2 separate regions of the Homo sapiens genome follow, and region 2 is linked to region 1. The links come from fine-mapping of genetic effects on gene expression. A gene starts in region 1. The other region holds a variant in brackets. All regions are shown on one strand. Distances are from middle to middle. Region 1 holds the start of TRAM2 (translocation associated membrane protein 2). Region 2 overlaps TRAM2 (translocation associated membrane protein 2).

Region 1 (5,371 bases):
TTGAGGTTTACAGCTGTCACGTGTATCTTTCCAGCCACACCCTCCAAGGCTGGGGACACGCACTTGGAGGCCTCTTAGAATGGAGGACAGCAAACAGACAGCAGAGAATGCGCTGGGCAAAGGAAATTCTGTTATTTTGTTAAGCTATTATTATGATAAATAATCACAGGGCTCCAGGCGCAAGAGACTTTTTCATGTTGGTAGGAGATGTTATGGCTTTTGTTGCTGATATGATCTCAGTTAAACCTTACAACCACCCTGTGACGAAGACCAGTTTTATGAACGTCTTTAATGATGGGGAAACTGAGGCTGCAGTCAGTTTTCAGTCAGACTAGTCACAGAACAGGGACTGAGACACACGGATATGACTCTGTGTGACACCACACACTTCCAGGGGAGAACCCAGAACAAGGTGGAGCAAGCCCGACCCAATATACCACTAGAGAGAGCTGTGAGAGGGAGAGGAAGGAGAGAGGGACTGAACTAAAGGAGCACTATCAAAAAGTGGAGTGGAGACCCCAGTCCTAGCACCACCGTTTATTTCCTACAGACCCTAAAGCTCAGCCACGGACACATTCATTCATCCAACCCTGACTTGGCCACCACAAGAACGTTCCCAGCTTGAGGGCAGCTTCGCCAGCCAATTAGGGCCCTTGTCATTCGTAGAGATACAGGGAACCCGAGACAGAGGGACAGGGAAGGAAATTTAGCCAGGCAAGCCATCCTCCATCTCCAAGGAAGTTTGTAAATGATCACAGCTTCCTAACCCAACCGTGAGAATGCAATAAGCAAGCTGACGCAGAAGGGAGGACAAGGAGTCTCAGGAACCAGAGGAGACCACGGTGAGAGTGAGGGGAATGTCGCTCACATATCTCACTTCTGAGACAAGATATACCGCAACAAACCCATGCCAAGCTTCCTCCAGTTCTTCCCACTTTTGAATATCACATTTTTCTTGCTCTGCAAGAGTAGGGAATCCTTCCCATCAGTCTTGTGAATTCTGACCCCTTGCTGGCTTTCTACAACTCCCTGCCTGGGAGGCCGACACCAGGACATTGCTGTTGGGGGTGGGATCCCCATCCTCTGCCCCCCACTCCTACACTATAAGAGAATCAACTTTCCCCAAAAAGTGGAGGGTATCCCTGTCTCTCTTCTTGTCTCTGTAAAGGGGGTGAAGCTCTGGGTCGCCGCAGATGGATCTAAAGGGACAGTTCACGGAGTGGTAAAGGATATCCAAAAATTGGCCTTCTAGAGCACAGCAAAAAAGTGGGAGCGAGACGAGAGCAGAAGGCCACTGCTGGGATGGGGCCAGGGCCACACGTGAACATCCGAGCACGTTCCAGAGCTGAGATGCAAAACACCCAGAAAATCACATAGGAAGTGGAAAAGGTTCTGGGTCTCTCCCACTGGAAAAGCCCAGAAGAGCTAGTGGCCACCCCTTGGGGCAAGAGGGGGTTGTGCAATGACTGCGGGTCTGGGAGTCTCTGGGCTTGGCTCCTGGACGCCAGAAAGGGAACCCCACGCGTCAAGCCATGGTGGCAGCGCGGCGGTTGGTTCGAGGCCAGGCTGGGGTTTCAGGGCTGCAGACAGAGCTGCAGGATACGATGAGTGCCCAAGGGGGCGGCAGAGCATGGCATGGCTGGCACGGCGCGGAGCTGGGGGTGCTGTCTGGGCTGGCCGGGGTACAGGCCGGAGGGGTACAGTGCACAAAGCCGGGGTGCAGATAACGTACACGGCAGCCAGGAGCCTCCGATCAGAGGAGGGCCCGCTGACCTGCAGGGGTGTGCCGGGCGGTGCACGACAGGGGGCACTGTCCCTCCAGCTCCCTCCTCCCCAGGCTCTCACCTCGAACATAAGCCCGATGAGGACGCAGAGCACCAGGCAGAAGCCGATGTCCGCATGGTTGTGGATGACGAACTCCTGGCTGAAGAGCGGGTAACTTTTCGTCCTCCTGCGGAAAGCCATGGCAGCGGGCGCGCAGCGGCCGGCGGGGCCCGCACCCTGCGCTCACGAACCGCAGCGCAAACTTCTCCAGCACCGGCCCGGTCCGCCCGCCGGCCCGCCGCCCGCTCTCCCACAGCCGCTCGCCCGCCCAGCGCGGAACAACTTCGGGGCCCGCCCCCTTCCTCCGCCCGCCCCCGGCCGCCCGTAACCGCCCCCGGCCGCAGCCCCCGCCCAGCCCCCGCCCAGCCCGCGGCCCGCACTCGGCGCGCCTGGCCCCGCCCCCCGCGGGCTTAACCCTCTAGCCGCTGGGCACGCGCGGGCTACCGGGGCGGAGGCGTACGGGGGCGGCGAGCGGGGCTCGGCTCCTCCTCGTCCCGCGCCAGCGCCGCGCCCGGCCGCATTCTCGGGGCCCGAGGCTCAGCCGCTCGCGGTGGAGAAAGCAGGCCGCGGAGGAGGCGGGCGCCCAGGCCTGCCCGGACAGGAAGTGGGCCCAGCTTTCCCACTCCTCGCTCCGCTCCTTCCTCCGCGGGAAGGGCAGGCCCCGGAGGCAGCGAGCGCCCCGGGGGTGGCCGGGCAGCCGGATGCTCCCGGGGTTGCGGGCTGTGGCCCCGGGGGCTGAGGGCGGCGCGGGTGCGGCGGAAGCAGGGAAGCCGCGAACCGGCCTTCTGGCTGGCCACAGCGCCCTGCACGGACGATCAGTGAATGGAGATTACTCAAGTATTTATCGAGAACTTGCAGTGGGCTAGGCACAGTTCAGGTAGATCAACAAACCGAAAGACCCTGCCCTAGGGGAGCTTTCGCTCCAATGCGGGGAGAGGGTGGATGATTGCAGTTTTGCCCAGTAATTTTTGGGACCCTCATGCCACCATTAATTAGCTACACACATTTCACCGAAAGTCTACCTTACATATTAATCAGAAGAAGTGGAAGAATAAACACAGAAGAAGCAAAAAAGGAAGGAACTTTCTCACTGAAAGTTTCTATTTAATATTAAGTCTTAAAAGTACTCCTGGAAGGACAAAAGGTGTTCTTAATAAATTATATTCGCAAATATTGGATTTAATCCTACCAGTAATGAAGCAGTCAGTTACTTTCTAGATGTGCAGAAATACGTAATGAACAAAAAAAACTAATTCCTATTCCATTTTTTATTAGGTCCACAGTTATTTCACTTCTAAATAAATATGGTTTTTTAAAAGTGGCACGCGGTGGAATGTAATTGAGACAGGATGGAGTTCCTAGAGAAATTTTACTTCCTCAATCTGCACTCCACCTTACTTAAAATACAGTCTTGGGTCTGTAATTCCCTTATCTGACTCTCAAGGAAATGACAAAGTAATGCCTAGATTGGACTAAACCTCATTTAACTTCAAGGCTGACCTTTCTCAAAGTTGAACCTTCGTCTTGTGAGGAACAGAAAGATCAAGAACTCTGAAGCACCTCGACTTTCCACCTGTGAAGATGTGTTCAAATTTGCAACGTGCGGCCACACCTATGAGGTTGAACTTTATACAATTGGTTTCTTTATAGGTTTAGATGGTTGAATTTAAGTTACCCCCACTGCTATTATTATTATTTTGAGACAGAGTCTTAACTCTGTTGCCCAGGCAGGAGTGCAGTGGCGAGATCTGGACTCACTGCAACCTCTGCCTCCTGGCTTCAAGCAATTCTCATGCTTCAGCCTGTAGCTGGAACTACAGGTATGTGCCACCACACCTGGCTAATTTTCGTATTTTTTAGTAGAGGTGGGGGTTTCACCATGTTGACCAGGCTGGTCTCGAACTCCTGACCGCAAGTGATCCGCCATTTTTTGAGACGGATTCTCTGTTGCCCAAGCTGGAGTGCAGTGACGCCATCTCGGCTCACTGGAACCTCCTCCTTCCAGGTTCAAGCAATTCTCCTGCCTCAGCCTCCTGAGTAGCTGAGATTACAGGTGCCCTCCACCCCCTGCTAATTTTTGTATTTTTAGTAGAGACAGGGTTTCACCATGTTGGCCAGGCTAGTGTTGAACTCCTGATCTTCAGTGATCCACCCGTCTTGGCCTCCCAAAGTGCTGAGATTACAGGCCACTGCACCCAGCCTTTTGCTACACATTTATACTAAACTATATTATGGGGCAGCACAGTAGGTTTGTTTACACCAGCATCACCAGAAACACGTGGTTAATGCATTGCGCTACAATGTTACAGTGGCTACGACATCACTATGTGATAGGAAATTTTCAGCTCCATTAAGATCTTATGAAACAACTGTTTTATATGTTGTTTGACCTGAATATCATTACGTGGCATATGGGTATATGTCCTCCAGTTTTTCAACATTCCTTCCTTCAAAAAGAGGCAATTCGTTCCCCCACCTTGAGTGTGGGCTGGACTTAGTGGCTCACTCCTAATAAATAGAAGGTAGCATAAGTGATGGTATGTGACTTCCAAGACTAGGCCAGAAGAGGCATTTGAGGGTTTCTGCTTTCTTTCTCTCAGGTCACTCCCTCTGGAGGAAACCAGCTGCCACTTTGTGAGGATACTCATAGTCCTGTGGAGGCATATCCTCCATATGGCTGAGACCTCCTGCGAACAACCATCACTGACTTGCCAGACATGAGTGTGCCACCTTGGAAGCAGATTTTCCAGCCCCAGTTAAGCCTTCAGATGACATCAGCCCCTGCTAATCTCTTGACTACAACCTCATGAGAGACCCTGAGCCAGAACTAGCCAGGTAAGCCACTCCTGAATTCCTGACCCACTGCACCTGGGAGAGAATAAATATTTGCTGTTTTAAACCACTAAATTTTATTGTAATTTGTTATACAGCAAGAGATAGCTAATACACACTGCTAAAGCTTACAATCTTTTAGAATTGACTGAGACATCATTACAATTCAGTGTGATGATGGTGACTCTAAGAACAACCTGAAATATGCACACTCTGAGTACAAGGAAAAGGTAACCTAATTCTCTCTGGGGTGTAAGGGAGGAGGTCATTTGGGCTGGGCCTTTACCTGACAAATGGTACTGACAGAGAATGCAGAAAAGGAGTGATAGATGAATTTGGAGAGTTAAGATAGAACTGGATTGTGGCAGGTTTTGTATGCTGTGATAAAGAATTGTGACTTTATTCTGCAAACAATGGGAAGGAATGGAAAGTTGGTGTTTTTTGTTTATTTGTTTTTGAGATGGAGTTTCCCTCTTGTTGCCCAGGCTGGAGTGCAATGGCACCATCTCAGCTCACTGCAACCTCCACCTCCCGGGTTCAAGAGATTCTCCTGCCTCAGTCTCCCAAGTAGCTGGGATTACAGGCATGTGCCACCATGCCCAACTAATTTTGTATTTTTAGTAGAGACAGGGTTTCTCCATGTTGGTCAGGCTTGTCTTGAACTCCCAACTTCAGGTGATCCACCCACCTCAGCCTCCCAAAGTTCTGGGATTAC
Region 2 (5,371 bases), 75 kb before region 1:
AATGGCTTGGCACTTTGGGGCAGGAGAGAATGCATAAAACTGAAGAAAACAGCCAAAGTGGCCAAAATTAGAACAAGCTAGCCCAACACGCTCATAGGATGAAGTGGAATTATTTCAGCTCTGGCAACACAGTCTGTGTCAACCTGCCACAGACTTGGCTCTGCTGTGAAATAAACGTGCCAGGGAGGGTGGCAGGGGGAGGGGGGTGACAAAGTACCCTACAACTACCCTCTAACCACCCCCCCCAAACATCCCTGAAGCCCAGGCTGGCAAGATGCCAGCCCCACTCATGGTCTCAGGGTTTTTTTTTGTTTTTTTTTTTTTTTTTACATAAAATAAACCCTTAGCACACCCGTCCACTGGGAAGCAGAGCCTAAGCTGACCCCGGCCACTGGGCTGGTGGGACCACATCCAAGGCATGAAGTACTGGCAGCACGGGGAGCTTGCAAGAGACAGGGACATGAAGTTGTGGCGTCTCTGGCACGCAAGTGTCCTGGGACAGAGCAATGGAAACCTACAGGCATGAGAATGAGGGTTGCTTGATGGCAAGATTTCAGCTGCTCTGCTCACACTACCTCTCCAGCAACTGGCACAACGCAGGCACCTGGCACATCCCAGCATGCCATACATATCTGTTGAAGCCACAACTCAACAGTTTAACCTGGACTCACCTGAGAGAGGCCTCCTGCATGTGAAGCCCTGCCAATGACACAGCCTGGAGAGCACCTAGGATGGGTGTTCTCTAATGGGGGAGGAAGGTGGGCTTAGGAGGCTGCTGGCTGAACATGCGATTTGCAGTTATTAGGCAAGGTGGGGGGCCTGAACTCAATTATAGACTCTGTCAGGGCTGTTTGACTAAAGTGGCTAAGGGATCCCATATCAGGTCTGCTGTGTTGAAACCAAACTGCCCTTTTACCAACGTTTCTGCTGTGCAGCCCAGAGAAGTGTCAGGGAAGGAGAGGGAGAAATGGGGGAAATACATATTTTCAAAAACACTGTCTCACTTCCTAAGGGTAATCAAAAGCAACCACGGGTAGCTCTTCCCATTTCTGCAACCTTATCGTAGAGAGGGATGAAGGCCTCCAATGGCGTTAGGAAACAAATCCCTCAGTTACTGGGAAGCTAAAATTTATCTATGATGTAAGTGACTTGGAGAAGGGGAGTTGCCTTGATGAAAAGACCCATTTCCCCCCTTTTGAATCTAAATCCAAGGTTTGGTTTCTACTGTGATGTCAGAAAGATGACCAGTATTCCAAATGACACTACTATTCCTGCACCTACCAAGAACTACTCCCCTTTGCCTCAAAACAGAGTTCGGAGGTTCTTAATTGGGACTTTTGTTTTTTTAGACAGAATTTCGCTCTTGTTGTCCAGGCTGGAGTGCCATGGTACAATCTCCGCTCACTGCAACCTCCGCCTTCTAGGTTCAAGCGATTCTCCTGCCTCAGCCTCCCGAGTAGCTGGGATTACAGGTGCCTGCCACTACACCTAATTTTTTGTATTTTTAGTAGAGATGGGGTTTCACCATGTTGGCCAGGCTGGTCTTGAACTCCTAACCTCAGGTGATCTGCCCACCTCGACCTCCCAAAGTGCTGGGATAACAGGCGTAAGCTACTGCGTCCGGCCGTAATTAGGACCGGCTTTTTAAAGCTGAACGCCCCTTCTAAAAGTCCTCACAAGGCACCAAAAGGACTTGGAGGCCTTCTCTTCAGGTGGAGGGGAGGGGAAAGAATCTGTGAGGGAAGGGGCCAGAAAGGCGCCTATCATCTACCCAGAGAGTGACTCTCAGTCAGTCATGGTTTCATGCAGTCTAAAATGCTGTAGTTGTGCTCAAAAAACGACAATTCCAAAGAACACTCAACAAGGGCGGCCAGATGAACAGCGGTCCAAGTGACCCTCCCTGAACACCAAGGGACCAGCATGGGGCTGAAGCCCTTGAGACTTAGTGTTTCTGCAGCTAGAGATGAAGTCAAGGTAGTAAGTTTGGCCCCTGACGGGGCTGGCTGGCTCTGGAGGTGAGGACCAGCCTATCTCAGGCAGGTATATGAACTGCTGTTTGGTTTGGTTTTGAATGCTTGTGAATGGCTGAAAAAGCAATGGCGACTGGGACTGCTGGAGAAAGGCCTAGGTCGACTCCACTGTGGGTTCTGCCACCATTACCTTTCTGGAGGTGCCTGCTGCGCAGTTTGCTCTGCTCTCGCTCTAAGCAGTGGGAAGACGTGTCCCCCCCCACAGAGCGACAGCAGGCTGGCTTCCAATCCGCGGCCAGCCACTGGTAGGAGCTCGAGTCACGGGACCCAACCGAGTTCACACCATCCTTCTGGATTGAGTTGTCACGTCCCAAAGCCAAATGCCTTGGCATTTACAACGAGCAGTGGCTGCTGTGCCTCAAGATGGTACATGCAGAACTGGAATCATATATCTCGTCAGTTAATCAGCACCAAGGAGATTATGATCCGAGATGGCCGCTCTCTTCTTGCCCATCCACATGAGGACCACCAAGGGCCTACCAGCCCCAGGCTTCTGACCGGCAGGCCCTGGGGGACCGAAGGACAGGACTGCAATCTTAGCTCCCCTCCCATTGTAAAAATCAGACAGAAAAATTGCAAGATAAGGTGAAAATAGGAAGTAAAAAGGAAAAGCAGCAGCCATAAGGCAAGAGACAGAGCAAGCAGAAAGGTGCCAGCCATGGGCGCCTGGCGTTCCAGAAAAGCCAGCACAGGACAGGAGTGAGGACAGGAGGTGGCCTGAGGGGGAGAAAGAGAAAGATTTTTGGCTTTATTGAGAATGGTTTGTGGAAGAATAAGAGGAAGCCAAGAAGAAGGAAAGCGAAACGCCCCCTCCCCCCATTGCAAGACAGGTTTCGGCTGTTTGAGACGGA[G/A]CATCACAGGCAGGAAGGAGGAGGCAGGGAGGGGGCCTGGGCTCCTTGCCCCCTGCTCGGCCCCCACCAAGAGGATTCCTGTTCTTAGCACTTTGGCCTTAGGGAGACTTGAGTTTCTTAGTCCGTGGGGAGGTTCCGTTCTCTGCCTTCACCACTCCATTTTCATGGTAACCTGGGAAGTGGAGAGAGACAAGCATACATGGTGTTTCTGCTGGAGCTAAGGCAGAAGAGGGGAGGGTGGGGCCAGGCCAAGGAAGGGGCCCGGGCAGCCCAGCTGCTATACATGGATGCACCAAAGGGGCGCCAGGCTGCAGCCTTGCACAGCAAATGCAAGCCAGCAGACGGCTCCCAGGAGGGTCCTGTCTTCCCCAGGGCCCTGGACTAGTGGCCCTGTTTGAGAGGCTTGGTCTCTGACTGCACTTTAGCAGGAGGGGCCTGGGATGACACACAGTAACTCAGCAACAACAGAGGCCAGCCTGCCCAAGCCTGAGGCTGGGGCTAGATACTCGCCGAAATCACTTAGATGCTGTCACTGCTCACTGTCCTCAGTTCTTCTCAGGCCCCTGCAAGGCATCAGCCCACTTCCAGTTCAGCAAGAACTCCCAGGAGCAGTGGCCACAGAAGGGAGGGGGACAAGAGGCTGTAGGAACAAGGCCTCAAGCAGGATGCCTGACACTCCTCTGGCAGAAAAATTGTGCTCTATTGTTCAAAATACCTCCGTGCGCTTGCTCAAATTCAGAGGTACTGGCTGCAGTCTTATGCCCCATACCTCCCCCGCCAGCCAGGCCTGACTCTGTGACACACCCAGCTGCGCGCGTGTCTGGTTCAAACACACATAAGCCTTTGCCAAGCAGGTGGCCACCTAGAGAAAAGCAGGTGAGTCAGAAAGCAGCGCCCAGTGCAGACAGGCCCCCAGGCTGGGCAGAACGTGCAGGGCTGGCAGGGCCTGAGGACCTGCTGAAGGTGGGTGATGACTGGAGTGCGTGCACGGGCCAAAGGATAAGTGTCCCACCCCTACCCCCCACCTAGCACTATGTCACTGTGAGTCATTCTTGGAGACAGAGGAGGAGCCAGCAAGCTGGGAGGCAGGGGCAGGCTAAGATGTGGAGCAAAAGGGCAGGTGAGGACAGAGGCCGCCGTCCGGCACTGAGAATGGGCGGCGGCGGCAGTAGCAGCACTTGGCTGGGGTCCAGAAGCCACCCTGAGGACACGCTTCCTGCCAGAGTTCCCCACCCAGCCACTGCCCTGCCCCGTGGTGGCCAGGGCTCCCAGCCTAGTTAGGGCCAGCCCCACCCACAGCCTGTCCCTGGCCCACACCCAGCCACGTGCCAATCAGGGAGCTAGGAGCCCCAGCCCTGAGGTAAGAGTCAGGAAGGAGAAGCTGGCAGGATTGGTCTGGGCAGCGCCCAAGAAGCCAGGTGCCTTGGCTCCTCCCACCCATCCCAGACAGACTTCCCTGGCTCCACTCTCTGCCAAGGGCCCTGGCACTCACCAGATTCCCTCTTGATGAGCCTGGCTGGTAGTCTGGGTGTGGCTGGGACTCTCCGCTTTGCACTCTGCTCATTCCAGTATTCCCGCCAGTGCCGCAGCTGGGAGTGGATGAAGCGCCACATGAGCCAGGCCTGGGCGGCACACACCAGCAGCAGCACGCAGAGCCTGCAGAGCAGGGGGTTAGGGGCTTAGGCTGGGGCTTGGGCTCACAGCCTTGGGCTGGGTTGTGCAGGGGAGAACAAGGGCCAGGGGCCCTGCAGTTCCCATGGCTTATCACGTCCGCCTTCACCACTGGCCCTCTTCGATACCACCACTATCACCAGGAAGAATGTGTGCTTCAGTCAGTCTCTGCTCCAGCATACATCACATGTGCCAGGGAGACGGGAAGGAAGTGGCGACAGACGTACGGCCAGCTCTACAATCACGCTACTCCTATGACGAGGGAGGGGTCCATGGCTGTGTCTGTTTTGCGCCCATTGCACAGAACAAGACTAATGTAAGCTCCACAAATATTGGTAGCATTCAAATGAACTGAATTTCTGGAAGAGTGGCTTCTCATTTAACATGTCACTTAAAAGTGGAGCAACCCTGGACAAATCACTCTCCTGGGCCTAGGGGCTCCGGAAAATAGTGGCTTCCTCACTGCCACAGGAGGCCACTGGCCAAGCCATTAAGCACATGGTTTTAAAGCACCCACACACAAGAAGAGGAGAATGATATCAACTGAGAGACTGGGTGTGATGCCTCTGTGCACCACAAAGTGCCAGACAAATGTAAGGGATTCCTATTTGGACTACAGTCTGAGCAAACCAGGACTAGGGGATGAAGATGGTTTGGATGGAACCAGAGGCTGCTATCTCTTCTCCCCTCAGGCCTGATATCCAGAGATTTCCAAAAAATAACAATATGTGGGAGACTAAAGGGTCTGCTGCCTCCAGACCTTCTGCAAGGGCTGTGCCAAGTTCAGGAGGCTCCCTGGCTTATCACCTTGGACTTCTG

Evidence for each region.
Region 2: its variant is fine-mapped to the expression of TRAM2 in lung (TOPMed, PIP 0.95).

What each region holds. Positions count from the first base shown.
Region 1 is chr6:52,574,951-52,580,321 of GRCh38, forward strand. It overlaps TRAM2 (translocation associated membrane protein 2), which reads right to left and starts at 2,110. Exons shown (of 11, transcript NM_012288.4): 1 at 1,846-2,110. The coding sequence starts at 1,965. TRAM2-AS1 (TRAM2 antisense RNA 1) reads left to right here and starts at 2,252. Exons shown (of 3, transcript NR_103446.1): 1 at 2,252-3,443; 2 at 4,425-4,659. RefSeq lists a silencer at 1,823-2,682.
Region 2 is chr6:52,500,218-52,505,588 of GRCh38, forward strand. TRAM2 (translocation associated membrane protein 2) reads right to left here. Exons shown (of 11, transcript NM_012288.4): 10 at 4,374-4,537; 11 at 1-3,053. The coding sequence ends at 2,980. Among named protein-coding and RNA genes, the nearest start is that of TRAM2, 74 kb to the right of the region's middle. RefSeq lists an enhancer at 3,549-4,748. The variant G/A (reference allele first, on the strand shown) is at 2,882.